Linked DNA regions of Homo sapiens: regions 2, 3, 4, 5, 6 and 7 are each linked to region 1. Evidence: fine-mapped expression QTL. A gene starts in region 1. Each other region holds a variant in brackets. All regions are shown on one strand. Distances are between the middles of the regions.

The links. PIP is the estimated chance that this variant, and not a neighbour inherited with it, causes the effect. A credible set is the group of variants that fine-mapping cannot tell apart.
Region 2: its variant is the best candidate, but not a certain one, in a credible set for the expression of ZNF514 in whole blood (TOPMed, PIP 0.83).
Region 3: its variant is the best candidate, but not a certain one, in a credible set for the expression of ZNF514 in whole blood (TOPMed, PIP 0.79).
Region 4: its variant is the best candidate, but not a certain one, in a credible set for the expression of ZNF514 in lung (GTEx, PIP 0.72).
Region 5: its variant is the best candidate, but not a certain one, in a credible set for the expression of ZNF514 in skeletal muscle (FUSION, PIP 0.83).
Region 6: its variant is the best candidate, but not a certain one, in a credible set for the expression of ZNF514 in blood mononuclear cells (TOPMed, PIP 0.85).
Region 7: its variant is the best candidate, but not a certain one, in a credible set for the expression of ZNF514 in whole blood (TOPMed, PIP 0.80).

What each region holds. Positions count from the first base shown.
Region 1 is chr2:95,157,519-95,161,583 of GRCh38, reverse strand. ZNF514 (zinc finger protein 514) reads left to right here and starts at 1,736. Exons shown (of 5, transcript NM_032788.3): 1 at 1,736-2,344. RefSeq lists a silencer at 1,660-1,909.
Region 2 is chr2:95,298,810-95,302,874 of GRCh38, reverse strand. All of the region lies in intron 1 of KCNIP3 (potassium voltage-gated channel interacting protein 3), which reads right to left. Among named protein-coding and RNA genes, the nearest start is that of KCNIP3, 3.5 kb to the right of the region's middle. RefSeq lists an enhancer at 3,895-4,065. The variant G/A (reference allele first, on the strand shown) is at 2,348.
Region 3 is chr2:94,881,333-94,885,397 of GRCh38, reverse strand. It overlaps LOC442028 (a long non-coding RNA gene), which reads left to right. Exons shown (of 10, transcript NR_037597.1): 8 at 3,960-4,065. Among named protein-coding and RNA genes, the nearest start is that of TEKT4, 12 kb to the right of the region's middle. The variant T/G (reference allele first, on the strand shown) is at 2,178.
Region 4 is chr2:95,190,446-95,194,510 of GRCh38, reverse strand. It overlaps the pseudogene LOC100287523. Among named protein-coding and RNA genes, the nearest start is that of ZNF892, 15 kb to the left of the region's middle. The variant T/C (reference allele first, on the strand shown) is at 1,940.
Region 5 is chr2:94,751,980-94,756,044 of GRCh38, reverse strand. It overlaps FAM95A (family with sequence similarity 95 member A), which reads left to right. Exons shown (of 3, transcript NR_038409.1): 2 at 1-88; 3 at 416-719. Among named protein-coding and RNA genes, the nearest start is that of FAM95A, 7.2 kb to the left of the region's middle. The variant AGTGT/T (reference allele first, on the strand shown) is at 2,191.
Region 6 is chr2:95,315,332-95,319,396 of GRCh38, reverse strand. The region is part of intron 2 of KCNIP3 (potassium voltage-gated channel interacting protein 3); the gene reads right to left. Among named protein-coding and RNA genes, the nearest start is that of KCNIP3, 20 kb to the right of the region's middle. RefSeq lists enhancers at 265-766, 3,159-3,659. The variant C/T (reference allele first, on the strand shown) is at 1,935.
Region 7 is chr2:95,086,478-95,090,542 of GRCh38, reverse strand. MRPS5 (mitochondrial ribosomal protein S5) reads left to right here. Exons shown (of 12, transcript NM_031902.5): 11 at 21-157; 12 at 2,962-4,065. The coding sequence ends at 3,186. Among named protein-coding and RNA genes, the nearest start is that of MRPS5, 33 kb to the left of the region's middle. RefSeq lists an enhancer at 2,525-3,090. The variant C/T (reference allele first, on the strand shown) is at 1,619.

The DNA of each region.
Region 1 (4,065 bases):
CACCTTTTTGGTTCGGAGCACCGAAGATGGAAAAGCTCCTATATCAGCCATGGTTCCCAGACAATGTCCCCCTGCGTGGAAAAGGGCTTGCTTGCTGCGCCATCCTGGCCATCTGTGCCACTGGAAGTGCTGGCAGAAAAGTGAAACAGAGACTGCAAAAGCAGGAAAGGAGAATGGTCTCTTTGCCTTGATTTCGTGTTATTTTGTCTTTGCCTTGATTTTGTAAGTTATTTTGTCCTGAACTCCTAAATAGGGTTGATAAACCAATCTCTCTGTCCTCACAAGTGGCCCTTCTCTGGCTGAGGACTGCCTCCAGAAAACCACCGTTTTAATACTCAGACTGTGTCTTAGGCATTGGCGCTGCTATAACAGAGTGTCTTAAACTGGGGAATTTGTAAACAACACAAATTTGTTGTTCACAGTTCTGGATGCTGGGAAATGCAATATCAACGTGCCAGCCAGTTCAGGGGCTGGTGAGGGTACGTTTCTCATAGATGGCACCTTCTGTGTCCTCACATGGCAGGAGGAGCAAAGGGGGCTTAAGGCCCGTTTTTATTTTTATTTATTTATTTAATTTATTTTTTGAGACGGAGTCTTGCTCTGTCGCCCAGGCTGGAGTGCAGTGGCACGATCTTGGCTCACAACCTCTGCCTCCCGGGTTCAAGCAATTCTCCTGTCTCAGCCTCCTGAGTAGCTAGGATTACAGGCGTGCACCACCACGCCCAGCTAATTTTTAAATATATTTTTGGTAGAGACAGGGTTTCACCATGTTGGCCAGGCTGGTCTCAAACTTCTGACCTCAAGTGATCCGCCCGCCTTGGCCTCCCAAAGTGCTGGGATTACAGATGTGAGCCACCACGACCGGTCTAAGGGCTGTTTTTAAAGGGCACTAATCTCATTCATGAGGGCAGAGTCTTCCAAAGGCTCCACTTCTTAATACTATCACCTTGGGAGTTAGGTTTCAACATATGAATTTGAGGGGGACACATACATTCAGACCATAGCAGGCCGTTTTTCCATTTCTTTTGGGTCCTAAATGATATTTGTTTCTGGAGTAGGAGGGCGTTCAAAGTCCTCTTTTGTTCTTCAGCACCCTTCGCTGAATTCAGGGGCAGATGGAGAAAGGCAAGAGGCACGGGGCAGCCTGTAGAAGCAGTATCTAGCACTGAGTCCCCAGTATCCCCTAGGCACGCCAGGAGAGCCTCCTGGAAATCCTCACTCAGCAGATCCAGGGTAGGAACGCGGCTTCTGTTGAATAGCCTTACATCGAGATATGCAGGTTGGGGGCGGTGGCTCACACCTGTAATCACAGCACTTTGGGAGGCTGAGGCGGGAGGATCATCTGAGGTCAGAATTCGAGACCAGCGTGGCTAACATAGTGAAACCCCGTCTCCACTAAAAATACAACAAATTAGCTGGGCGTGGTGGCGGGAACCTGTAATCCCAGCTCCTACGGAGGCTGAGACACGAGAATTACTTGTACCCAGAAGACAGGTTGCGGTGAGCCGAGAGCGCGCCCCTGCACTCCCACCTGGGCGACAGAGTGAGGCTGTCTCCCCCCTCCCCCCAAAAAACGAGAGAGATATGAGGCTCAGCTACCAAAGTCACGCGCGAGAAGGGAAATGCTTGTAGGTCCCTGCCCTTGGGGGAGAGCGGAGTGAAAACCGGCGCGTGGCCGGCGAGCACGGCCCCTCCCAGCGGAGGTCCTACAGGCGCCCGCGAGCCCCGCCTCTCCAGCTTCGCCGCGCCAGCACCCCGCCACCGGCGCTGGCTCTGAAGGGCCCCGGCGGCGGCCGCGTCTGCGCAAGCTCGGGACGGCCTCGGGAGGCGGGGCTGGCGCGGGGCGGACGCGGGGGCTGGCGCGGGGCGGACGCGGGGGCTGGCGCGGGGCGGACGCGGGGGCTGGCGCGGGGTGGCGGGCGGGGGCTGGCGCGGGGTGGCGGGCGGGGGCTGGCGCGGGGTGGCGGGCGGGGGCTGGCGCGGGGTGGCGGGCGGGGCCTGGTCCTGTGAGCGTTCGGAGACTGCGGGCGCGCAGACCTGTACTGGGCCCGCGCCCCGGCCCCTTACAGAGCTGGGTGTGTCCCTCCGAGTGCCCCCCGCTAGGGACTGTGCAGGCCGGAGCTAGGCAGGGACAGCGGGGCGAACCGGGCTGATAGAGTCGGTCCCTGCTCCTGTGAGGCTCTCACCGAATCCCTGCTGTTTCCGGGCAGCTGAAGAGCGCTGGGCCCTCGCGTCGCGGGCGTGGCTGTGGCCGTGTCTCCTGGTAGTCTGAGCCCACTGTGCGTGTGGATCCACGTGGGAGCTGGGTTCCAGAGCCTGGTCCTGAGGAGGAGCCGAGCCGGGGGTAGGAGGCCGGACTTGGCGAGGGAAGAGCACGACCCCGGGCAGCAGTGCGCCGCGCTGGGCGCACCGGGGTTTGCCGGCCCTGCTCTGGGCCCTGCAGGTCCGCTGGCCCCGCCGCGCCTAGTGGGGATGCCCCGTGTCCCCCAGGCAGCCCCAGCCTGCGTCCCGCTCCCTGAACCCTCGGGAGGACCACAGGGCTGTGGCCGAAAGACAGAGATTTGGACCTAGTGAAAGGACGCCGCTCCTTAGCCCCAGCTATGGACTCCACAGCATCAGGTTTGGCTCTGGAGCGTGCAGAGGGCCAGGAGCCCTCTTGGGGAGCTAGTACCGAGCCCGATATCAGGAGGACCCCAGGAAGAGGCCGGGGAATCCCACTGAAGGGTGAGGCTGTACTTCATCTGCCTTCCGTGTGGCGACATCTAACCTTCCAGACCCAGAAGGCTGAAGCCGCAGTCTCCTGGGTCTGGCAGGGGTCTCTAGATGACCGTGGCGGAGGTGGAGGGGATGGCCATGGAAAATTGTCCCAATGGCCAGAGGAGAGCAGAAGAGGATCTGATCTCTTCCTGCTGCGGCAGGGAGAGGGCAAGCAAACCCAAGAGGGAGTGGCCCTTGGCCAGGGATCAGAGGACGATAGGGCCATTTGGAGCCTTGTCATCCACCTCCTTAATCACCTCACTAATAAGGTTCTTCCAGTCGTTCTAGCTCAGCGGTGTATAAGGTCAGCAGTGTACATGGTGGGTATCTCCTCTGAGCCCCTTCCCCCAATAGCGTTGGGGGCAGGGCAATCCAGGTGACCCAGGAGGTTTTAAGCCAGTCCTAAGTTTAGAACGTCCTATCTCTAACCAGGTGGGCATTTTAATCCGACTGTTCATCCTTCAGTGCACATGCTCAAGGACACATAACTGGCCAGTGGAAGAACTGGGCCCAGTCCGTGGGCTTCCCACCCCCTCTTTTTTCCTTTATACCCTTGTTAATCAGTGTGGCTCTGGGAACAGCAGAGGCATTGCCCAGAAGTTCTCTAGAATTGCAGACTCTGGGGCCCCACACATCCTCAAACAGTGTCTTAGCAAGTCTTGAGCCAGAGTTTAACAAGATCCTCAGGGATCCACACACACATGAAGCTTGAGGAATGCCTAACTGTGCTATGCTTACACCCATGTTGTTAGCCTTAACTACTTCTCTGGCATGGTTTGGGTTAGTTTTTTTGTTTGTTTTAAGGCTTTTATGAACAGTATGATGCAAAGCTTTATAATGAAGGAGCTCTCAAGTGTGTTGCAGAGACCTAACAGAGCTTGGGAACACCAGGGGCAGCTTCTCAGAAAGAGGTGGCCTCTGAGCTGGGTTCCCAAGGATGAGGGGAGAGGTGTAACTTCCTCCCCTTAAAGCCTCATAATCCTGCATGGCCTTGCCTTGGGTCTTGTGTAATTGTTAACCTGTAGGCTAGATTTAAAGTTCCTTGAAGTTCTTTTCCATATTTATATTTCCAAAAGTCCTAGGAGATGACCTGCATACAGTATGCCCAGTAAATAACTTCAGTGGTATGGCCAGACTGGTCACACTTCACTCACTTGTAGACTGATGTGGGCTGTGGACAGGTGGGAGCCTCATGCAGCTGTGTACAGGGGCACTTCTCTCAATGTTTGAAGGCTAGAAGCTGCCTCTCAGATCCTTTTGATCCACTGGTGTCCTCAGAACAACGGAGGTGACATTCAGAGCTGTTCT
Region 2 (4,065 bases), 140 kb before region 1:
GTATGTGCCACCAGGGCCCCTGGGTGTGGGCTCAGAGGGCACGGCTAGTTGGGGGCAGGGCAGGAGATCGAAGGCAGGTGGATGTGATTTCCAGCAGCCGAGGACAGTGGGAGGGGTCTGTGGCCAACCAGTTACATGAATCCCGCACCCTCGCTTCCCAGCTCGGTGACCCTGACAGAGAACCTGACAGCTCCGAGCCTCAGTTTACTCATCTGCAAAATGGGGGTGACAATGTGCCCTCACAGGGTTAAGGGGAAGGCAAGGTGACAAAGCCCCCAGTGGGGGAGAGTCAGTGTTCCTCGCCCTTCTGATCCCAGGGAGGGTCTGGCTGTCCAAACCCACAGCCTAGCATGCCTGGCAGGGAGGCCCAATGTGCCGCTCTCAGCTGCCACATGCCAGAATCACGTGGGGAGGCTCTCACCATCTGCCTGCCCAGGAGCTGGATTGTTTGATGCAGAGAGGGCTGGGCTACTCTGTTCTTATAAAGCTCCTCAATAGATCTGAAAATGCAGCTTGGGGAATTTGTTTAGAGTGTCTGTCCCTCCAGATAGAAAATTCTTGGCCTTGCCTGAAAGGCAAAGGGGGTCCCCCGATTCTCACCCCCTTCCTTTCCGGAAGGGCTTCACCGAGGCCAGGGCCAGCATGAGACATCCAGGCTACTCAGATGTGGGGCTCCCCACCCCCCACCCTGTCCACGGCTGCTGCGGTGCAGACTGGCCCACCCAGCACTGCTTGCTGTCACTGGCTCTATTTCCATCACTCGGGACAGATGGCAGGAAGCAGTGGTGGGCGTTGTGTCGTGCAGGCCCCAGGGTATGGAATGGGGAAGCTTTGGGGAGCCTGGATTCTCCACCCACCCCTGGGCACAGACAGACATAGGCAAGGCAGCTCGCCTTGTCGGGGGAGCCGAGGTTGTCATGAGTCCCTGAAGATGCATGTGTGCACATATGCACATACACACACACGTACACATGCCTGCAAACACACCTATGAGCGCGCACACACACACACACACACACACAGCCCTGGGCCCCAGCCCTCTGGCAGCACTGGAGCAGGAGAGCTGGGCTGTCCACCCCTGCTCTGATGGCTGCCACCTTGACAAGGACAAGCTCCCCATGCTGCCTGGCAGTGAGGGTGTCACGTTAACCCAGGGGTGAACTTGAGTTGCCCATGGCCAAATTGCCTCTTGGTGGCCTTCCCAGGCTCTCCTCAACAGTCAGAAGGGATGGCATAGGTATTCCCTTCATGTGTGGAGGCCTCACTCTGTGCCAGGGGCCAGGCCAAGCTGGTTGGTATAGGATCACATTTATCTGGGGGTTCTGTGATATTCATACTTCCCCCAGGAAAATGAGGACACAGTGGCACAGATGAGCTAAGTAACCTGTCAGAGGACACACAGCCAGTGTGTGACAGGGCCTGGACTGAGCCCAGGTCTGCTGGTGCAGTCAGGGCTCACAGCCAACAAGGCACAGCCATGATGCCTCTTGGCCATGCCTGTCTCCTGCCCGGGGTCCTTTAGTCCCGCACAGTGAGGATCAGGGCTCTGCGCAAGACCCATGGACATTTGTGTGCACATGTGGGGCACTGCTGGCAGTGGCCCTGACTTGAGTCAGCCAGGCCCGTGCCTCCCAGCCCTGCACTGCTCATCACAAGGCCTGGCAGATGCTGTGAGCATCTCTCAGACCCAGATGGGAAGACTGAGGCCCTGAGTCAGTGGGGCAGAGGTGGGGCTACAGTTTGGTTCTCTGGAGCACTGTCCAGAGTGCCCATCTTGAGAGAGGATCCCACGACAGAGCTGGGCACAGGGGCATGTGGCACCAGCAGCAGAGGACTGGGATGCAGGGGACTTGTCCCTTGCCTACCCTGGCATCTGCCTACTGTCCATGTGATAAAGGCTGGGGAAGGCTGGGGGCGTTGGGCAGGCTGGGAGGTGAGGCCAGAAAAGACCAGCAGCTGCTTTTCCTGGCTGAGCCTGGCCCAGGCATGGCCAGGCTGATGGAGAGGGCATGCTGGGCAGAGAGCTGAGGTGGCAGGTCAGAGGGGGAGGCTGGGCCGACTCTAGTGTGGGACACGCCACCCCCACGCTGCCCTCCCGTCTCAGCTCAGCTGCTCCCTCTCCAACTCTGCAGGTCCCCTTGCTTCTTTCCCTGCCACAGGGCTGCTCTTTGGCCTTCTAAGGCATGGGCTGATCTCAGATGACAGACGCACCTGCTCAAAGGCAACATCAGTCAGCTGAGGCCGGGAGCCCTGGGCAGGAAGCAGCACGGGACTCGCCCCATGCTGTGCCCTCCCCCGACTCTCAGGCTCCTGCCTGCCCCAGGTCTGGGCACTAGGCCAGAAAGAC[G/A]TGCTAACTTCTCTCCCCTCTTCTGCTTCACCTTGGAAACTGAGAGTGCTTTCTTCCGTGCAGAAGCCACATTGGCTGCTCCTGGAAGTCACTGGGATGCCCAGGGGTGGGCTGGGGAGGGCAGGGGGGCTCTAAGGCCCCTCTGCTAAGTCAGTAAAGCAGTTCCCTGCCTCACACAGAAGGTCTTGATAAGACAAGGCAGCCTGAATTTAAAATGTTGGGGTCCTTTACTTCCTAGCTCTGGATCCACAGTCCAAAAATGGGAGGCAGCTAGCTCCAGGTCACGTGGCTAACGCAGGGGATGCGGCCAGGTGGAGTCTGGCTTGTGTGCACTCACTGGAGGGCTCAGAGGGCACAACAGACCACCGGCCGCACGGCTGGGATGGGCCCCTCCTCTGCCATCTGGTTAAAGGCATGCCCTTCTCCTCCTGCGTCTTCTTCCGCAACCCCCAAGCCCTAGGGACTTGCTGCGCTCTGGAGTAAGACAGAGCAGGGTTCAAATCTCAGCCACAACTCTTGTAGCCTGCAGTCTGGGGCAGGCCTCTGTTTCCCCATCTGTGAAGTGGGGATGATACCAACAGCTGCCTTGTGGGCTGCGTGAGGGTCCAGGGAGATAATGCGGGAGACAATGTCCTAGATGGGCGTTGGTACCCTCAGGCTTCTGGCTCTCAGCTCTGCCCTTCTCCTGGGCTCTACCTGGAGGGCTGAGGCAGAGCCCCTTTCTTCCCAGTGCAGCCTGGGGTCTTTTGAAATGTGGGAGCAAATTAGGGCCCATCTCGCACAGTGCCCTGCAACAAGGCTGGAAGCCAGGCAAAAGGGGTTCCCAGTGCACGGGCTGAGCTGTGAAGACACCACAGCCTCAACACCGCGACAGCAGCGCCTGTCGCAGAAACTGCGGGTCTTTCGCTCCTTTCTCCTAAGAGCTCATGGGATCAAGCTCATGGAGTCCTGGAGCTGTTCCAGTTTTCTGAGCCTCAGTGTCTAGAATAGGAATGGCAGTGCCTCCCCGCCTCCCCATAGGAGTGAGGTGAGAATTCATGAATGGCTGGGGAGTAGGCTAGGGAGCCGGGCAGTCATGGGGCGTTACTGGGGGACAGCCACTGACCGTGACCCTGAGGAGTCAGAACACCTCCCAACCTGAGCTCTGACTACAGTCCCTGCTGCCACAAGAGAGGAAGGTTATTTTTCACAATCTCCCATTGATCTTGATGAGAAACCTAATGGTGGCTTCTCCTAGGACCACTGTCTCTGCTGGGCCCAGCACCAGGAGGTGTGGGTCCCACTCCCCTCCCTGGCCAGGCCAGCCACAGGAAGGCCACCAGCAGACATAAGGACAGTGAGACCCACTGGGGCCCAGGAGCTGGTTGTGGGAGGGTAGAGCGCAGTGTGGGGTCACAATGGCCAAGGGAAGAACCAGATGTAAGTGCAGGACTCAGGCCACCCACTCTGCCAGTCTGGCAGGGGCAGGAGTGGCCAAGCTCCCAGAGTGACCTTTGGCAGTTAAGGCCCGCAGAGGAAAGGCAAAGGAGGGGAGGACTGTCTTCTGCTGGAGGTCAGAGCTGGCTGTGTGCACATCTGTGTGCAGCCTGACTCTGGAAATTCCCATCTCTGTAGTCATGCAGGGTCGCTCAATGTGTCTCTGCCTATGGGCACGGTTGCACTGTGCACCCTGACGCCGTAGTGTGTGAGCCTGGGGCAAGGCGCTACGTTTCTCCACT
Region 3 (4,065 bases), 280 kb after region 1:
GCAGTTTTAGAAAAAATAGAAAAGTGCAGAGAGTTCACATATGCTCCCCTACAATGCCCCCGCCCAGTCTTCCCGACTCTTAACATCTTGCGTTACTGTGCTACATTTATTAGATTTGATGAACTGATACTTATATCTGAAGTTCATAGTTTACATTAGGGTTCACTCTGTGTTTCATAAATTTTTGGATTTGACAAATGTATAATGTCATGTACCCACCATTACAGTATTATGTAGAACAATTTCATTGCCCTAAAAATCTCCTGTGCTCCACTGATTCGTTCCTCCTCCTCCTCTTTCTCCTACCCCCGGTCATTACTGATCTTTTCACTCTCTCTAATTTTGCCTCTCCCAGAATGTCATGTAATAGATCATGTAGTATGTATCCTTTTCAGACTGGCTTCTTTCACCTAGCAGTATACATTTAGGGTTCTTCTGTGTTTTTTTCATGGCTTGATAGCTTATTTTTCAAATTGCTGAATAATATTCCATTTGTTTGCATGTATTGCAGTTTGTTTATCCATTCTTGAATTATCCATCTCTAATTGGGTTGTTTCGTCTTTTTATTTACTGAATTGTAATTCTTCCATATGTATTCTAGATACAAATCCCTTGTGTTCATCAGGGTTGCAGGATACAAGATCAATATACAAAAATCAATAGTATTTGACACACTTTAACTGAGTACTACATACTCACAATGAGCAATCAGAAAATGAAATTAAGAAAGCAACTTCATTTATCATAGCATCAACAAGAATAAAATACTTACTAATAAATTTAAGAAGTGTAAAACTTGTACTCTGAAAACTATAAAACATTGTCGAAAGAAGTGAAAGAAGATCTAAATAAATGTAAAAGTATCCCATGATCATGGACCGAAGGCTTAACATTTAAGATGGCAGTCCTCCGTAAACTCATCTACAGATTTAACTTCATCCCTGTCAGAATCCCAGATGAGTTCTTTGTAAAATCGACAAGCTGACTCTCAAATTCATATGGAATTGTAAGGGACTGAGAATAGCCAAAATAATCTTTTGAAAATGAGGAACAGTGTAGGAGAACTCATACTTACTGACTTTATAACTTACTACAAGACAATGGTAATAAGGACAATATAATACTGGCAGAAGGGTAGATGTATAGACCAGTGGGATAGAATTGACAGTCAGATATGAACCCATACATATATAACCAACTGATTTTTGACAGGGGTGCCAAGATTATTCAGTGGGGAAAGAAGTTTGAAAACTGGCCCAGGGACAACTAGATATGTAAACATATGCAAAACCTGGAGTAGGACCTTTACCCAACACCATGTACAAAAACGATGCAAAAAAAAAAATGGATCAAATGGATCCATTTTGAGTGAATCCACATAAATGTAAGGACTAAAACTATAAAATCCTGAGAAGCAAACAGGAGTAAGTTGTCATGACCTTGGATTTGGCAAAGTTTTCTTAAATATGAGACCAGCAACAAGAATAAAAATTGATGAATTGGACTTCATCAAAATTAAACATTTTTGCACTTCAAAGGACACCATCAAGAAACTGAAAAGACAACCCACAAGATGGAAGAAAATACTTGCAAATCATGTATAGCACTTTTTGATGGTAAACTTGAGGAAGACTTTTTTTTTTATTTTTTATTTTTATTATACTTTAAGTTCTAGGGTACATGGGCACAATGTGCAGGTTTGTTACATATGTATACATGTGCCATGTTGGTGTGCTGCACTCATTAACTCATCATTTACATTAGGAATATTTCCTAATGCTATCCCTCCCCCCTCCCCCCACCCCATGACAGGCCCCGGTGTGTGATGTTCCCCTTCCTGTGTCCACGTGTTCTCATTGTTCAGTTCCCACCTATGAGTGAGAACATGGTGGTGTTTGGTTTTCTGTCCTTGCGATAGTTTGCTCAGAATGATGGTTTCCAGCTTCATCCATGTCCCTACAAAGGACATGAACTCATCCTTTTTTATGGCTGCATAGTATTCCATGGTGTATATGTGCCACATTTTCTGAATCCAGTCTATCATTGATGGACATTTGGGTTGGTTCCAAGTCTTTGCTATTGTGAATAGAGCTGCAATAAACATACGTGTGCATGTGTCTTTATAGCAACATGATTTATAATCCTTTGGGTATATACCCAGTAATGGGATGGCTGGG[T/G]CAAATATTTCTAGTTCTAGATCCTTGAGGTATTGCCACGCTGGAGGAAGACATTTATTTTTTATCTCTTACCAACACAGCAGTAACATCCTAAAATCTCTCTTCCTGTCTCTTTTTGCCATTCTTTAAATCTTTTCTCACTTAATTTTCAGATTTAATATTTAATACATGGCAACACTCCCTGTAGTCCCAGCTATGGGGGGGAGACTGAGGCAAGAGGATGGCTTGAGCCCAGGAGATGGAGGTTAGATTAGAAAGCAGGGATAATGAGATCAATCAAAGCGGTCCTCAGGACACTAGTCACAGTGTTTGTACTAATACTGGAACTGGTTTATTTTCAGGCATTTCTAGTGTGATCAGATGGCAAAGAACAAGTATATATATGTGTGTGTGTGTATATGTGTGTGTGTGTGTGTGTGTGTGTGTGTGTGTATGTCAGTTTCCAGGACTGCTGGGCAAGCCTGGGAAAGACAGTACCTGGGGAAAGCAGCCTCCTGCTCCCCTGTGCCTTCTTTGAGCTTGATGATCATTTGATGTGGTACTATATAATCACATCCAGGTTACCCTCTGAAATTCCTTGATGGTTCTTTTCTATATCCTTGACACTGTCCTTTTACAGACCAAGTGATCTTATCTGGAATATTACAACAGTTTTCTTTTCTCAGTGCTTTTAGAATAACCTGTCAAAAACTCATCTGACTATAGTAGTACCTGCTTACAACCTTTTACTTAGTCCCCATTTCCTACCGGGCTGTGTAGCTCACTTGAGCTCTGCTAGGTGGTGAGGGAATCTGGGTCCTCTTTCTGGTATTTGAATTCAGTGCTACACAGGTTACTGGCTGGGTTGACAATCTCAAATTGTAAATCATGAGTATTCTATGTAGATAGTCTGTCACGATTTACAATAGAACATTGACATTTATGTAAAAGATCATGGTGATGTGAGGTTGCGTACTGTCTGTGAGAATTAATTGAGGAAATTTAAATTATATGGTTTTATTCACATATAGTGCATAACAACTAGTTAAGGGATAGATGTCTTCTTATCTGACTTTCAAGTATCTAAGAGTGGATCATTGTGCTTGTTAAAGTTCTGGGAACCATGGCTATTTTCTGAAAATACCTCAGTGATGACAAATAAATGACTACCAGCCTCTCGTAACATTAGGACTCCAGTTCATCCCTTTGCTTCATAAGTGTGTCTTTTCCTTTTGTATGTATTTGCATTAGTATAGAAAATAGGTTTTCTTGATTAGAAATCTAAGAAGAATAAATTGAAAACTGGAGATTTTTCTATTGCTTTGGATTACTAAAAGTTAGTGTAATTTGGCAGTATATCCTTGTGCCATTATTGTCTCTCTGGTAAGTAGATGGTAGGGCTTTGGGTGATTAAAATTTTTTCCTATTTTGCTTATTTAATGGGCATGTGTTTGTATTAAAAAGGGGAAAATAAATAGGAAGGTAGAAGATGTTAACTAATCGTGAAAGTTATTGGGAAGGGTTACCTAATTTAAAAGTTGGCCAGCCATGGCAACACTGCCTGTAGTCCCAGCTGTGGGGGGAGGCTGAGGCAAGAGGATGGCTTGAGCCCAGGGGATGGAGGTTACAGTGAGCTGTGATTGTGCCACTGCACTTCAGCCTGAGGGACAGAGCCGGACCCTGTCTCAGAAAAACCTAGAACAACAACAAACAGAGAGAGGAGCCTGGACGTATTGAGCTACGTTAGTGTTCGCGGGCTGCTGTAGTGATGGCTTACAACATCAGAAATTTATTCTCTTACAGTTCTGGAGGCCACAAGTCCAAAATCAAGGTGTGGGCAGAAATGCGCTCCCTCTGCAGACTCTTGGGGAGGATCCTTGCTTCTTCCAGGTCTGCGACTGTGGTTCCT
Region 4 (4,065 bases), 33 kb before region 1:
ATGTTTATTTTCTTACTAAAGTTTCTAGTTGTATAAGTGCATTTGATTTTTGGCTCAAGTTCTCAGGTATTCATTCGTTTAGAAAATGCATGATGAGGCCGGGCACGGTGGTTCACGCCTATAATCCCAGCACTTTGGGAGGCTGAGGCGGGTGGATCATGAGGTCAGGAGTTTGAGACCAGCCTGGCCAATATGGTGAAACCTCATCTCTAGTAAAAACACAAAAGTTAACCAGGCGTGATGGTGGGCGCCTGTAGTCCCAGCTACTCAGGAGGCTGAGACAGGGAGAATCTCTTGAACCCAGGAGGGGGAGGTTGCAGTGAGTTGAGATCGCGCCACTGCACTCCAGCCTGGGCGACAGAGCAAGACTCCAACTCAAAAAAAAAAAAAAAGAAAGAAAGAAAGAAAATACGTGATGAGTGCCAGGCCCCACACTGGGAACACAGCAATGCACAGATATGAAGGAGTTCTTGCTCTCCTGCAGCATTCAGCCTTGCGATAAATAAATACATAATATGTCTGTTCCCTATCTTAGGGTCTCCTTCAAACACCTGCAAAGCATATTGATTGGAGAGCTTCTGACCAATTTGGGGATCCTCCAGGCATCATCTCAAATTTGAGATATCCCAATGAAGTGTATGGGATGGTTAATTGAGACTATTTATTAAGACTGTGGTACCAAATGGAGGCATAAGGATAAGCAGTTGTGTAGGGACCAGCCCCACAGGGTCGGTGGGTCTCTCCCTGTGTGCTGCGACGAGAGAGTGTAGAAATAAAGACACAAGACAAAGAGATAAGAGAAAAGGCAGCTGGGCCCGGGGGACCACTACCACCAATGCGCGGAGACCGGTAGTGGCCCCGAATGTCGGGCTGCGCTGTTATTTATTGGATACAAGGCAGAAGGGGCAGGGTAAAGAATGTGAGTCACCTCCAATGATAGGTAAGGTCACGTGGGTCACGTGTCCACTGGATAGGGGGCCCTTCCCTGCCTGGCAGCCGAGGCAGACAGGGAGAGGAGACAAAGAGAAAGACAGCTTACACCATTATTTCTGCATATCAGGGACTATTAGTATTTTCACTAATTGACTACTGCTATCTGGAAGGCAGAGCCAGGTGTACAGGATGGAACATGAAGGTGGACTAGGAGCGTGACCACTGAAGCACAGCATCACAGGGAGACGGTTAGGCCTCTGGATAACTGCGGGCGAGACTGACTGATGTCAGGCCCTCCACAAGAGGTGGAGGAGCAGAGTCTTCTCTAAACTCCCCCAGGGAAAGGGAGACGCCCCCCCCCCCCCCACCTTTCCCGGTCTGCTAAGTAGCGGGTGTTGTTTCTTGACACCTTTTGCTACTGCTGGACCATGATCCGCTTGGTGACGGGCGTCTTCCCAGACGCTGGCGTCACCGCTAGACTAAGGAGCCCTCTGGTGGCCCTGTCCGGGCATAACAGAAGGCTCGCACTCTCGTCTTCTGGTCACTTCTCACTATGTCCCCTCAGCTCCTATCTCTGTATGGCCTGGTTTTTCCTAGGCTATGATTATTGAGTGAGGATTATCATAATATTGGAATAAAAAGTAATTGCTACCAACTAATGATTAATGATACTCATATATAATCATATCTAAGATCTATATCTGGTATAACAATTCTTGTTTTATATTTTATTATACTGGAACAGCTCGTGTCTTCTGTCTCTTGCCTCGGTGCCTGGGTGGCTTGCCACCCACACAGTTGATAGAAGGTGCTCAAACATAAATCGTCATTACCTTGAACAAAAACATGCTAAGTCTCTCTGGGGACTGCTTGTCTGGCTGAAGCACCTCCATGGTACCCCGAAGCCTGTTTGGCATAAACATCACTGATGTTGGATGATAGAGGACTTGCGACTGAGAACTTTCCCACACATGCTGCACTCGTGGAGCTTCTCTCCAGGGTGCAC[T/C]CTCTGATGGTGAATGAGCCATCTTTTCTGGAGGAAGGATTTCCTACATTCAATGCATTCATAGGGCTTGTCTCCACTATGAATTTTCTGTTGCTGATTAAGGGACGAGCCATAAAGAAAACCTTCCCACCCTCATTATCTTCGGGATGCATCTCTACAGTGTGCACTGTCCTGTGTCGAATGAGGGATGAATGGTCCAACATGAAGGGGTGGCCTGCCCCTCCACACCTGTGGGTATTTCTAGTCGGGTGGGACAAGAGACTGAGAAAAGAAATAAGACACAGAGACAAAGTATAGAGAAACAATAGTGGGCCCAGGGGACCGGCACTCAGTACACCAAGGACCTGCACCGGCACCGGCCTCTGAGTTCCCTTAGTTTTTACTGATTATTATTTTCATTATTTCAGCAAAAAGGAATGTAGTAGGAGAGCAGGGTGATAATAAGGAGAAGGTCAACAGAAAACATGTGAGCAAAAGTATCTATATCATAATTAAGTTCAAGGGAAATTACTATGCCTGGACGTGCACGTAGGCCAGATTTATGTTTCTCTCCACCCAAACATCTCAGTGGAGTAAAGAATAACAAGGCAGTATTACTGTAAACATGTCTTGCCTCCCGTCACAGGGCAGCTTTTCTCCTATCTCAGAGTTGAACAAATGTACAATCGGGTTTTACACCGAGACATTCAGTTCCCAGGGGCAGGCAGGAGACAGTGGCCTTCCTCCATCTCACCTGCAAGAGGCTTTCCTCTTTTACTAATTCACCTCAGCACAGACCCTTTACGGGTGTCAGGCTGGGGGACAGTCAGGTCTTTCTCATCCCACGAGGCCATATTTCAGACTATCACATGGGGAGAAACCTTGGACAATACCCCGCTTTCAAGGGCAGAGGTCCCTGCGGCTTTCCACAGTGCATTGTGCCCCTGGTTTATTGAGACTAGAGAATGGCGATGACCTTTACCAAGTATACTGCTTGTAAACATTTTGTTAACAAGGCACGTCCTGCACAGCCCTAGGTCCCTTACACCTTGATTTTATACAACACATGTTTTTGTGAGCTCCAAGTTGGGTCAAAGTTGCTGGGTCAAAGTGGCTGGGGCAAAGCTACAAATTAACAACATCTCAGCAAAGCAACTGTTTAAAGTACAGGTCTTTTTCAAAATGGAGTCTCTTATGTCTTTCCTTTCTACGTAGACACAGTGACAGTCTGATCTCTCTTTCTTTTCCCTACACAACAGAGCTCTACCCTACCCCTGCATTCCTAGGGCCACTCTCCAGGGCGGGTTTGCTGTGGCCAGTCAGAATAACTTTCCCACTGAAGGATTCCCCACACTCTGTGCATTCATAAGGACTTTCTCCAGTATGAGTTCACTGATGCCCAGTAAGGGTTAATCAGTTGTAGAAAGTTTTCATTGCATTCAAAGGGGCTCTTCCCAGTGTGTGACATCAGGTGTTTCTTTTTTCGATTTTAACTAATGTTATAGAGACAAGGTCTCACTATGTTGCTCAAGCTGGTCTCAAACTCGTAGGCGCAAGTGATCCTCCCAAATTCTGGGATTACAGGCATGAACCACTGGCTGACATCAGGTTTTTCTTAAGACTCCTACAGCTAAAGGCTTTTCTGCATTCCTGACAGTCATGGGGCTTTCCTCCACTGTGAGTCCTCTGATGGTGGGTGACGACTACGTGGTTATATGGGGTCTTCCCATACATGCTGCATTCAAAGTTCCTCCCCTTACTGTTAGTTTTCTTGGCAAGAGTAGATCTTTGCCTCAGTCCTTCTCCTTGGGCGCAGATTTCTTCAGCGTTTCCCTGAATGGTTTTTCTTCTTTCTGCGCTCAGGCTTTTCAGGGATAAGTGCAGGACCCAGTGGAAAATCTTTTCAGAGTTTTTCATTAATGTATTTAGTGATTTTATTTTTTTAGAAACATCCTGCCTTTGAGTGGAGTCCTGGCTCTTAGATCTAGTCTTCTGGTCTAAAATAAATAGCAAATAGAGATCAAAGCTTTGAGTGCTAGTTAAGAAGAAAGTATTGTATGTGTTAAGAACAAATACAAAATACTGGCTGATTGATTGGTAGCTCCTTAAAAGAAAAACAACAGGGACAGAGTGAAAAATAGCAAAGG
Region 5 (4,065 bases), 410 kb after region 1:
ATTCTATTGCCCTCCTGCTGCTGGGTCTTTAATCCTGAGATGGCTTCAGGGGCTGGTCCTTCTCCATGGCCCCCTCCACATATCTCAGGTTTGTGCTCAAAAGTCACCTCTTGGAGGGGTCTCTCCCTGTCACTGTGTTTGGAACAGCTCCTTTGGTTTCTTTCTAGCTCATCTCACTCTGGTAATGTCTTTCATTACCACCACCATCTGAGCTGGTCTTATGACCTGTTAGCTTCCTTCATCAAACATGAGCACTAGGATGACAGGGACCTCATCTGTTCTGTTCCTCCTGTGGCCTGGGTCCTAGCACCATGTCTGGTACAGTGTAGATGCTCAAGGGAAGTTTACTTTATAGAACTGTCTACCTGGGAGATGTTGCTGTTAGTCTAACCTGTACCATTTTGTAATCCTGCAGCCATTTTGCAAACCCTGGTCAGAATGAAACATTCCTTGGGAACTCGGGCCATGAGAAGCATCCTTCCTGACCACCTGACTGCGGAAACATCCTTATCGCATCCTCCCGGGCGAAGGCCCAACAGCCTGACTGCAGGAACATCCTTGCCATATCCTGCCGGGCAGCAAGCTCTACCGCCCAGACCCCTCCTTCCCAGTCCCATGATCGCCCCAGCCTGTGAGCGGCAGTTGGTGATGGCACTAAGCTGATTTCCTCCTCTGCAGGGTTTTGCTAGTAATAAAGGTGTTGCTGTTGAAGCCACCAACCATGTCTCTCTGTCTTTCTTTAACCCTAGCCTTGCCTTCAAAACCTAACAATAACTCTACCTCTCCATTTTACCAAGGATTATATGAGACTCAAGGAGAGCAAGAGACTTACCCAGAATTACAGAGCCAGTGAGTCACAGAGCCTGAACTTGAGCTCAGTTCAGCTGAATCCAGAACTCGTGTCTTCCTGAGAGTCCAGGGAAGGAAAGGTGGAACTGCAGCCAGTGGGTGCCCACATGCTTGTCCTAGGAGACCCCAGGTAGCCTCCTGGGAATTGTGTCCTCATGGGCACGAAAGAAGAACTGCTCACCTGTGCTGCATCAGCTAAGTGTCCCCATTGTCCCAAATTGTTATATTGTTTCAAAGTTTTGTTTTAATAACTAAATTTCTCACAGCTCAGTGTTCAAAACAAAGCACAGAGGCATGTAGAAAGTCGTGTGGGTTTTTCTCATTTTCTTCCCAGTGACTACAAATGAATGTACAAAAGAACACAAATACACTCATACTTTTATATAGAGATGAGGCCCTCCCACTCATATTCCTCTGCCACTAGCCTTCCTTTTTTTTTTTTTTTTTTTTCCCACGGGAGGACCACTTCTCCATGTCTAGTCCATGTCATTTGGGAAGGCTGACCCACCCTGGGCAATCAGCAGGGTAATTCATTCAGGAGTGGGCATGTGATCCAAGCTGGGCTCATGGAAGTCATCCCTGAACTTTTGATGAAACTGCTGGGAATGAGGTGCTTTCTTTTTATTGGCATAGCTATTTGCAAGGAAGTAAGTGATGTGAACTTTATGGGGCCATTTTTGCTGCTGTCTCAAAACAGCCACTAGAAAAGCAGAGCTGACACAGGAAATGAAGGGACAGAATGAGCCTTGGTTGATATTAGTTGACCCCTGATCCCGTTGAGCCAGAAGCCCATCTACTCATGGACATTTTAAGTAAGTAGAGCCAAATAGTTCAATGTTCTGCTGGATCAAGTTAGGTGTCAGTCACTTGCGGTCAAGAGAGTCCTGCATAATAGCACTTTCTCTGATGCTTAGGTCCCACCTGCCAGAGCTTTAGAGCTGTAGAAGGGTAAAGTGAACCCAGGCAGTGCTGAGCTAGCCAGTCTCCTGGCTAAGTGTGCAAAGGAACCCTGGAGTCACTACCACTTTGGTCTCACAAATAGCCTTGCCTGCTGCTTACCATACAGCCACAGGCGTATTGCTTCCCTGAGTCCTTAGGCATTATACCTGTTTTTGAAAATGATTTTTATTTAAGAAAATGTTTTGTGGAGATGGTGTCTTGCTATGTTGCCCAGGCTTGTCTTGAACTCCTGGCCTAAAGTGCCGAGATTATAGGCATGAGCCACTTTGCTTGGCCAGCACTGTACTTCTATTAGTTATCAGTGCTTTTTTGTTCTGTAGTTTCTAGTGTGTGCTTGAGTGTGTGTGTGTGAGTTTATGTGTGTGTGTGTTTATGTGTGTG[AGTGT/T]GTGTGTGTTTATGTGTGTGTTTATGTGTGTGTGTGTGTTTGTGTATGTGTGTGTGTTTATGTGTGAGTTTGTGTATGTGTGTGAGTTTATGTGTGTGTATGTGTTTGTGTGTGTTTATATGTGTTTGTGAGTTTATGTGTGTGTGTTTGTGTGTGTGTATGTGTGTTTATATGTGTGTTTGAGTTTATATGTGTGTGTGTTTGTGTGTGAGTGTGTGTTTATGTGTGTGTTTGTGTGAGTGTGTTTGTGTGAGTTTATATGTGTGCGTGTGAGTTTATGTGTGTGAGTATATGTGTGTGAGTGTGTGTGTTTGTGTGTGAGTTTTTATATGTGTGTGTGTGAGTTTTTACTTTCATCTTGCAGGGTTATTGCAAGCATCAAGTGGGATCCTGTAGGCACAGCACTCAGTCCAGTGACTGGCACATACAGTGAGCTCTCTCTGTTCTCCTGGTTCAGAGAATTACTTAAGGATCTGTGATGTGTGCCAATTTTCAATGCCCTGGATACATAATGGGGAGTACTGTTGCCGTAACTTTGCACTAGTTTTAATTCATTTTATCTGTTTAGCATGAGATACCTCAAAGTCACTGAATAAATTTGTCACACACAAACACACACACACACATATATATATACACACACACACAAGTATGTTTCTTCAGAGCTGACAAGCTTATTTTTTATTCCCTGATGCTGCAGTAGAGGCCACTGTGTTCTGATTTTTTGAGTGATGGCTGCCAGCTCTCCAAGTGTCACAGTCGGTGAGGCATCCATGGGGGCGAGTGCCAAAGATGAGTGTGGCCAGTCAGCATCTGCAAGCCCATTTTGTCTATTCTCTTTATAATATGTTTTATTCATTTTTTAGGTTTATCATTTAATCTGTTATAAACATCTCTCCTAAAATGTTTCTTAGTTCTACTAGGGGTTAGTTTCATGAAATAAGTCCAGAAATAGTCCAGGGCAGCCAGGGATACCCTACATGCCATTGGGGAGGGAGAAATCTTGTAGATTGAAGGTTTTGTTGTAGGGACAATCGTTCCAATTGTCTTCAAGTTGCTAAACCCAACTCAGGGCACTTCATCTTATTTGAAGAGAGCAGCAAGCAGAGAGAGCAAAGGGAACTTGGTTAAGAGAAAAGAAGAACAATAACTCTCCCCTTTCCAAACAGATTTTCAGAAATCCAAAGCAGTGAATTCTGCATTTCACATTGGCCAGGACTATAAGCTCTGCTCACTACAGTTATGAGAAAAACTGGGAAACTCATTTAAAGACATAAGCCAGGGCCAGGCATGGTGGCTCATGCCTGTAATTCCAGCAATTTGGGAGGCCAAGGTGGGAGAATCACTTGAGCACAGGAATTTGAAACCAGTCCAGGTAACATAACGAGACCCAGTCTCTACAAAAACAAAACAAAACAAAAGCTGGGTGCGGTGGTGCACACCTGTTATGCCTGCAGTCCTACCTACTCAGGAGTCTGAGCTGGGAGATCACATGAGGAGTTCAAGGCTGCATGAGCTTTGATTATGCCACTGCACTCCAGCCTGGGAGACAGAGTGAGACCATTTTTCAAAAAATTATAAATTAAATAATAAAATGTGGATAAACACATAAATACATTTAAACAGTGCTCCTTGGAAAAAGTGAATCTATGTTCCCTTAGTGAAGAAGATGAGAATAACGGATATAGCAGGGAAATGGACAGCATTGGCCACATTAGACCAAAATGAAAGTCATAACAGGTACCCCAAATCAGTACCATTAAAACCACATAATGTGACCATAATGCAGTCAAATTGTGACCAACAAAAACAAACTGACAAAAAAGGTATCATGGAGCATACGAATTCTAAATCTAAATTGAATGGAGCTC
Region 6 (4,065 bases), 160 kb before region 1:
GGCTTGGGAGCCTAAGGCACCGCTAAGGGACAGCACATGTAGCCACAGCATTCCCCTCTCTTTTGAAAAACTGGAAGGCCCAGGAACCCTGGGCTCTCCGAGTCCCCACTCAGAGCCACCAAACTTGCCACCTGGGGCTAGACTGAGCCCCCGGCTCCACCAGCCTCCGCACAGCAGGGTCCGCCTTCCTCCTGCAGACTCTGTGCTGCTCTACCGCTCTCCAAGCCCCTGTTATTCTACTTGTTTGGGGATGCGTGAGTGTATGCTCAATCTTACATTTGCATGCTTCTCAAAATGTCATGCATGAATTTGACAGGTATTTTATGTGCCAGGCTCTGTGCAAGGCACTCAGGACAGGGCAGGGACAAGATTGGGGGATGAGCCCCTGGTCCCTGGAGATGCTGTGGCAGCCCAGCCCTGCCGGCGGCTGCAGGTGACCTCTCAGCATGGGGGCAGCATCTTCTGGCAGCATAGGCAGCTTGTGGCACCAGGTCCTGGGATGTACATGTCACATGTCTACACCAGCTCATCTTTGTTTTAGGGACATCATTTTATCTCTCTTTGGAAATCACTTGACTTCTTTAGCCTACTCTCCTCCGCGTCCCCACAGCACTTGCTCAGCACTCCAAGCTGCTGATGCTCACTCCTTTCAGGGTCTGAAGCTCCTGATATCAACCCTTCCCAGCAAATGCCAGGTCCCCCCATGCAGGGCACCACCCCTGTGCCTGCTTCGTAGCCCCGTGGCCGAGACTTGGTCTTGGTCCTGCTCAGCCCCGGGTGCAGGCAGAGGAGGGAGAGCCTGGAGTGGAACTGGCTGGCTGTGGATCACCCACCTCCCGGTTCCCCACAGGCCTGGGCCCACAAGTACCGACTCAGGGAGTCCCCTACATCCCTGCCAAGGCCTCCAGGTTGCTTAGGTTTCATAGGTTTTGGGAGGTGGCTGTCATTAACTGAGCACTTTCTGTATAGAGGTCTTAATACACACCTGCCCATTTTTGTTAATCCTCATCACAGACACCACTTCTGCCTTTGATGGAAGAGGAGAGGGTTTCCAGTGAGGGAAGGAGACGGGGAGGGCCTGGGCGGTCGAGTCAGTGTGCACAGGAGGAGGACTGGCCTGAGAGCCACCCCACTCTCTCCCAGCCCAGGCTTGTCCTGAGTCTGTGTACCCCATGGAGAAGCCAGCGGCTCCCCATCTGCTCTCCCTCCCTGGGCCCATGAGTGGGGGATCCCAGGCTTGGCATTCACTGTCCCCAGGTCACAGTGGGGAGGGGTGGGCTGCAAAGACTGCAGTCCTTCCTGGTCCTGCTCCCAGGGCCACTGCCCACCCCTGCCCCCTGTCACCCCTACCCCAGATAAGGCAGGCCCAATCCTTGACCCGGCCCAAAGCTGTCCCTTCTGTAGCCCCATCCCAGCCCCACCAAAGCAACCCTCACCTCCAGCCAGGTTCCCAGAGATGAAGCGGAAGAAGACGCTGATGATGCCTCCCAGGTGCTTCCCACAGCCATGCTGGCACTCCTGCAGCCTCGGGCCAGGGCCGCACCCTGCCATCCTTGGGCCTGGCTTAATCCGCCCGACTCCTGCCCTCAGCTCTGCCCTGCCTGCCACTGTGCAGGCGGTACCCCCACAAGCCTGCTCCCTGACCTCCTCTGCCAGCCTCTCCTCAGCCTGACACTCAACACCTTTCTTTTTCTAGGACTCCCCACTCCTGGTCTGTCTGTCTGTCTCTGTCTCTCAAAAGCAGCGTCTCTCCTCTTGGTCTCAGCTTGTCCCCAGTGTCTTGGGCGCTCTGGGCCTGTCCTTCTCTCCTCTGCTTTCTGTCCCTGCTTCTGGCTCTCCCAGCCTTTCCGGGGACTGCCTGCCCCTCAGCCCAGAGCCCCGGGGCAGCCAGAGTGCACTCAGTCCTCCTGCCTTGGGTTTGCCTTCTCAGGTAG[C/T]CCCTGCCCCTGCCACAGGGCTGGCCCCTTCACCTGGTGCCTGGCCTCAGCCTCCAGGCCCCCGGAGCTCACTGTTCCTGGAGGCAGAAGGGCCCCTGCGGCTTCCTGGGCTGGGAGGCGTGGGGATGGGGTGGGCGTCACTCCTGAGCTCCCAGCACCAACAGAGGAGGTGACACTGGTGTGATTATCAGCTGAGGGTGTGATCTCACTGCAGAGGGGCCTCACCCGGGCCCCAGGGCTTCTCTGCAGCCAGACAGGGAACAGCCTGCTCTCACACAGTCCCCTGCCTAGGAGGCTCAGGGCCAGGGGCCCTGAGTAGGACGGGGGCATAGGTAGGGCCCTAGCCTTAGGCTGTCTCTTGACCTCTGACCTCTATCCACTGGCCTCATCCCTCAGCCCTGCTGTGCCTCTCTAAAATGCAGAAGGGGAAGTGGGAAGCGGTTCCTCTGCTGAGGAGCAGAAGGGAGAGCCAAATTCATGACTGGAGCTGACCAACCCCCTGCCCTCCACATTTTTGAGCACTTAGCAATAAATAAAGGCGATAACAGCCAGGCAGCTTGCTAAGGTCTTTCTGGGTGCCAGTGAGTGCCTTCAGTCATCAAAACAACCCTGCAAGCCACATGTGGCTGAGAATGCCAGTTCTGTATTCATTCTTCCTGAGTTTCACCAGCAGGGTTCAGATGCTGTTGGAGATGGAAATGCGCCCAGCTGAAAACTCCACCATTCCCCTGCCTTCCTCGCAGTGAGGGCAGCTTATCTCTGGCCAGTGGAATGGAAGCATCTGTCTTCCAGAGACTTCTGTGAGTGCTGCCTTCCTGACATGGGGACCACCACTCTCCGCTTCCACCTGGGTTCTCCTTCCTGTTGCCTGAAATGAGGCTGTGTGGGCTGCAAAGCAACCACATTGCCACAGTGAGGGGAACGGTAGAAGAACCCAAGACATTGACACTGACGTCCCCCAGCTGCCAAACTAGTGCCAGCCACCGCCTCACCCCATGTTTCCCATATAGGAGCCGATGCACCTGTCTTGATCAAGCCACTGTTATTTGGGGTTTCTGTTATATGCAAGTTCAGGCAAGCCAAGGGATCCCTTGCAGAGGGAAAGACGAGCTGCTGCGCCTCGCACCCCTGCCAGTAAAGGAAGGTGCGGTGCCCGGCGGGCCTCCTGTGCACCACAGTTAAATGTGCGGCTCAGAGGCTGTTCCGCAGGTGCAGGCCAAGTACAAGCAGTGCTGCCCCTTGGGCCTAATGACCCAGAACATTCAATGACACACGATGAGTCTAAGGCAAGTTGGAATGCTCTACGGGGCCATGGCAGGCCCCCAGAGGGGAAATCTGTGGTCTCTTGGGTTTTGAGCAATGCCAAAAATCTCTCCTGTTGGCATTCAGCTAACTTCCCACTGCTGGGCTGCTGTGGGGGTGGAGCGCCTGATGGTGAGAGAGACAGAGACAGAGAGACAGAGTAGGTGGCCATGAGCCCCGAAACACCCAACAGCAATCGAGTATCAACCTCTCGCCCAGCCCCACTGGTATCTGCATGTGCACACAGTGCTCTGTCGTCATGCCCAGGTGCTGTGGATGGGGCCCGAGGCAGGGCAGGTCTGGAGGGCGCAGGGAGGCTGTACCTGCGGGGGCTGCGACTCCCACAGTACCTGCTGCATTGCCGCTTTCCCCACAGCCCACCCGCCCCCTACGGTCTCGAAGCCGTCTGAGGAGGAAAAACTTTCGGAGGTGACTTATAGACAGAGCTGCAAGAAATGTTGGCCCCAACTCTAGGTGACACTGAGGCCCACCTAGGGGAAGGACGTGGAGAAGGGACATCTTCCTGGTACATGTGTTGCCCACATTGTCTGAAGAAGAGAGGGCCGAAGGCACAGGTTTACACTGATTCATGGATGGCTGTTAACCATTAGTTCAGGGGTCAGGGAGGTGGAGGGGCAGGATCGGGGGAGTAAGGGCTGGGAGGCCTGGGGAGGAACCACCCGGAGTGTGGGACAGCAAGTGCTTCACAAGTGCCCTCCAAGGGGCGCTGGGGCCGAGGAGGCACTGGACGATCAGGTGGGCCAGTGGTCCCCTCTGTGCACCTCACAGCCTCTGTTCCTGGCTCCTCTGGCATTTGCTTGAGAACGAA
Region 7 (4,065 bases), 71 kb after region 1:
CCCGGTTTCTCCTTTTCTAGGTTACGGCCTCCGCTGCCACAGGGCCATCATCACCATCTGCCGGCTCATTGGCATCAAAGACATGTATGCCAAGGTCTCTGGGTCCATTAATATGCTCAGCCTCACCCAGGGCCTCTTCCGTGGGCTCTCCAGACAGGTAATCCTTTCCCGGGGTCTGAAACAGAGGTTCTAGTTTGTATTTCAGTTGTGTGTGTTGGGGCTACGATGCCCTGGGGCCTCCTGGAGATGCTTTCCTGGGGCCACCTGAGGAGTTGGGCATTCTTTGTTGTCTGTGACTGCATCAGTTTAGTTAAATCCATTGACAAGTTCATGAAAATTACCTTTTTTTTTTTTTTTTTTTTTTTTGAGACGGAGTCTCGCTCTGTCACCCAGGCTGGAGTGCAGTGGCGGGATCCCGGCTCACTGCAAGCTCCGCCTCCCGGGTTCACGCCATTCTCCTGCCTCAGCCTCCCAAGTAGCTGGGACTACAGGCGCCCGCCACTACGCCCGGCTAATTTTTTGTATTTTTAGTAGAGACGGGGTTTCACCGTTTTAGCCGGGATGGTCTCGATCTCCTGACCTCGTGATCCGCCCGCCTCGGCCTCCCAAAGTGCTGGGATTACAGGTGTGAGCCACCGCGCCCGGCCTGAAAATTACCTTTTAAAAAGTACTTCATGGGTTTTTCTAAGCAGCATTTTTAAAGCCAATAATTACAATCTACATGTTATTATGAAAATAACACCTGCTTGTTCTAAAGCTCCAACAGTATAGAAAAGTAAAATCAAAAGAGAAAGTTCATTTCCTAATTTAGTCCTTTCAGTTGGGGCTAGGATGAAGCACCCAGGGCACCTCTGCACACAGGGCAGGCACAGTCAGTTCCCTGTTACCTGTGTAGGTGGTTCGGACTGATGCCTGGGTTGGTAGGGAACTATGAACATTAACATATCAGGTTACTTTTCCTCATAGGTGGGAGCCCTGGGCCCGGCTCCCAATCACCCACCATGGAGGGCAGGGCTGTGACTGCACCGGGCCCCCATTCTTGGGCAGCTCCCCTACCTGCCCAGGAGGGCTGGCCTGTCTCTTGAAAGGATGGGTAGACCTTAGCATAGGTGGATGAACAGAAAAGACAACCAGGTTCAATAGGCTCCATTTGCTGAACTCTGTTAGCTGAGGACTTTGGCAGGCTTCCTGACATTTCAGGAGTACAGTGGTGGGTTTTAGGTAAAGTGATCCATGGAGTAATTTTACATGTCTCTGTTTAAAGTAGGAAAATTAAAAGAAAAAGAAGGCTTTGGGTAAAAGCCTTCTGTTTTCTGAACAGCTTTTGTGTGTGTTACTGTCTAAAACACCCTTCAGAGCACTTGTAAATTGAAACATTAGAGGTTTAATTAAGATGTTGATTTTAGATAGGTTGTATTTATGATCCAGTAGACTTGTTCTGTTTTTGGTTTTTGGTTTGTTTGTTTTTGCTTTTTGAGACAGAGTCTTGCTCTGTCACCAAGGCTTGGAGTGCAGTGGCTCCATCTCAGCTCACTGCAACCTCCGCCTCACGGGTTCAAGCGATTCTCCTGCCTCAGCCTCCTGAGTAGCTGGGACTACAGGCACGTGCCACCATGCC[C/T]GGCTAATTTTTGTATTTTTAATAGAGATGGGGTTTCACCATGTTGGTCAGGCTGGTCTTGAACTCCTGACCTCGTGATCCACCCGCCTTGGCCTCCCAAAGTGCTGGGATTACAGGCGTGAGCCACCGCGCCCAGCCTAGACTTGTTCTTTTATGTGATATCTTTGTTTTCTTTTAGTCTTTTAAACCTTCTGATATAGTTACCATATGTCATCTCTCCTAAAATGCCATCAGCTATAAAAGGTTGCATTATTTAATATGTCACTCAAAAAGGAAAAGATGCCACCACTTTAGGTGATATGCCTTTGATTGAAAGATACACCAATATAAATTATTTTGTTTATGAAATGGCTCATCTGTTTTCTAATTTCACACATACTGCAGGGCATTAGATATATAATTAGAATAGTGCAAGGCAGCCATAAGGCCTGGGATCACGGGATTGACATAGCAGGTATGTCATTGTACCATGAATAACGTCTACTGAACTAATCTGCCTGCTTCCAGATCTCTGTGGCTTCCCTCTGCAGTGAATCCCCATGGCCCTGTTACCCAGCTCATGACCAGTCTTGCTTCTTAGTACACCCCCAGTTATTTTGAACCAAATCTCAGACATTTTATTTCAACCCTAAATATTTTAGTATGTATCTTCGAAAAGATGAGGATTTTAAAAAATACCCTGTAATACTATTATCATACCTAAAAAGTTAACAGTAACTTGTATCATCAAATATCCAATCAATGTTCATACAAATGAGCAAATTCCATTTGTTAGATTAAAAAAAATTTTTTTTTTTTTTACACAATGTGTTTGAATCAGGTTGCAGAACAGGTTAATGTATGTTTTTGCTATGCCTTTTAAATAGGTTCCCCTCCTCTTCCCCCACCCCCGCCCCGCTTATGATTTTTTGTTGAGGAAACCAGGTTGTTTGTTTTGTAGTGCTTCCTGGCCTGTTGCTGACTAAAATACCTGTAGGGTCCTTAGTGTCTTATCTCCCCTATATTTACTGTAAATTGGTAGTTAGATCTAGGGGGTTGGTGAGATTCAAGTTCAGTGTTTGGCACAGCATGGTGCATAATCAGGAGGGTTTAGAAGGCAAGAGACCAGAGGCCAAGGCCCTTCCTCTATCCAAGTTTGGGGTGGGCAGATGCAGCAGATGAGGCTGAAATGACTCCACCCATGACAGGTTATTAGAGTTTAGCCACAAAACACATTAACCCAAATCCACTGAAATGGCCTTTGAATACCCCCAGGCTGTACTGTTGTGGCCTGTGGAAGTTCCTGCTCTTTATGTTGCAAATGTACTTCAGACCTAACCTGTTCTGAATTTGGTCTTGCTTAGGAAACCCATCAACAGCTGGCTGATAAGAAGGGCCTCCATGTTGTGGAAATCCGGGAGGAATGTGGCCCTCTGCCCATTGTGGTTGCGTCCCCCCGGGGGCCCTTGAGGAAGGATCCAGAGCCAGAAGATGAGGTTCCAGACGTCAAACTGGACTGGGAAGATGTGAAGACTGCACAGGGAATGAAGCGCTCTGTGTGGTCTAATTTGAAGAGAGCCGCCACGTAACCTCTCTGGCCTTGTGCAGCCAGTTCCTGTGCTGCCCTGCACCTAGGAGAGACTCAGCCCCTCACAGCTTGGGATGTTACCTTGCCTTTTGTTTGTTTTGAGGGAAGTTTAATCTTTAAACTCTTTGGAAATAAATAATTATAGCTTTCATTTGTTGAGCACATGTTATATGCCAATGTGATAGAACCTTTACATACATATCTCAGTTCAAGACTACTTTAAATATTCATCCAAAGTAACAAAAGTAAATGAATTAGGGAGACGGGGTTAATAATTTGACCCAATCAGTAATAATGTACACAATGATAATTGCTGTAGTAATTATAGCTAATATATATGAACTCATTCATCCAAAGTGAATGTGATTAACTTCATTTTACAGAGCAGTTAAGTAACTTGACTACCGTGAGGAACTTCCAAACCGTTTTCCACAGTGGAAATGGAAGTTGTAGGCTACTATTGGGAATGTTAAATGGTATATTAATTGTATACCATTGCAATTTTGACTTGTATTTCCCTGATGGCTGATGATGTTGAACATCTTTTCATGTGCTGATTGGCCATTTGTATATGTTTTTTGGAGAAATGTCTATTCAGAGCCTTTGCCCATTTAAAAAGTTATTTTTTATTATTATTGAGTTCCTTATAGTTTCTAGATATAAGCCCCCCTATCATACATGCTTTACAGAAGTTTTTACCCATTCTGTGGAATATATATATTTTTATTTCTTTGCATACTCTTTCTGCCCCACCCACATCCTCTTTCTGGGACACTGATGACCAAAATGTTGAATCTTTTACTATTGTCCCGTGAGTCCCTGAGGCGCTGTTTATTTTTTTTCCAGTCTGTTTTCTCTGTGTTGCTCAGTTTAGGTAATT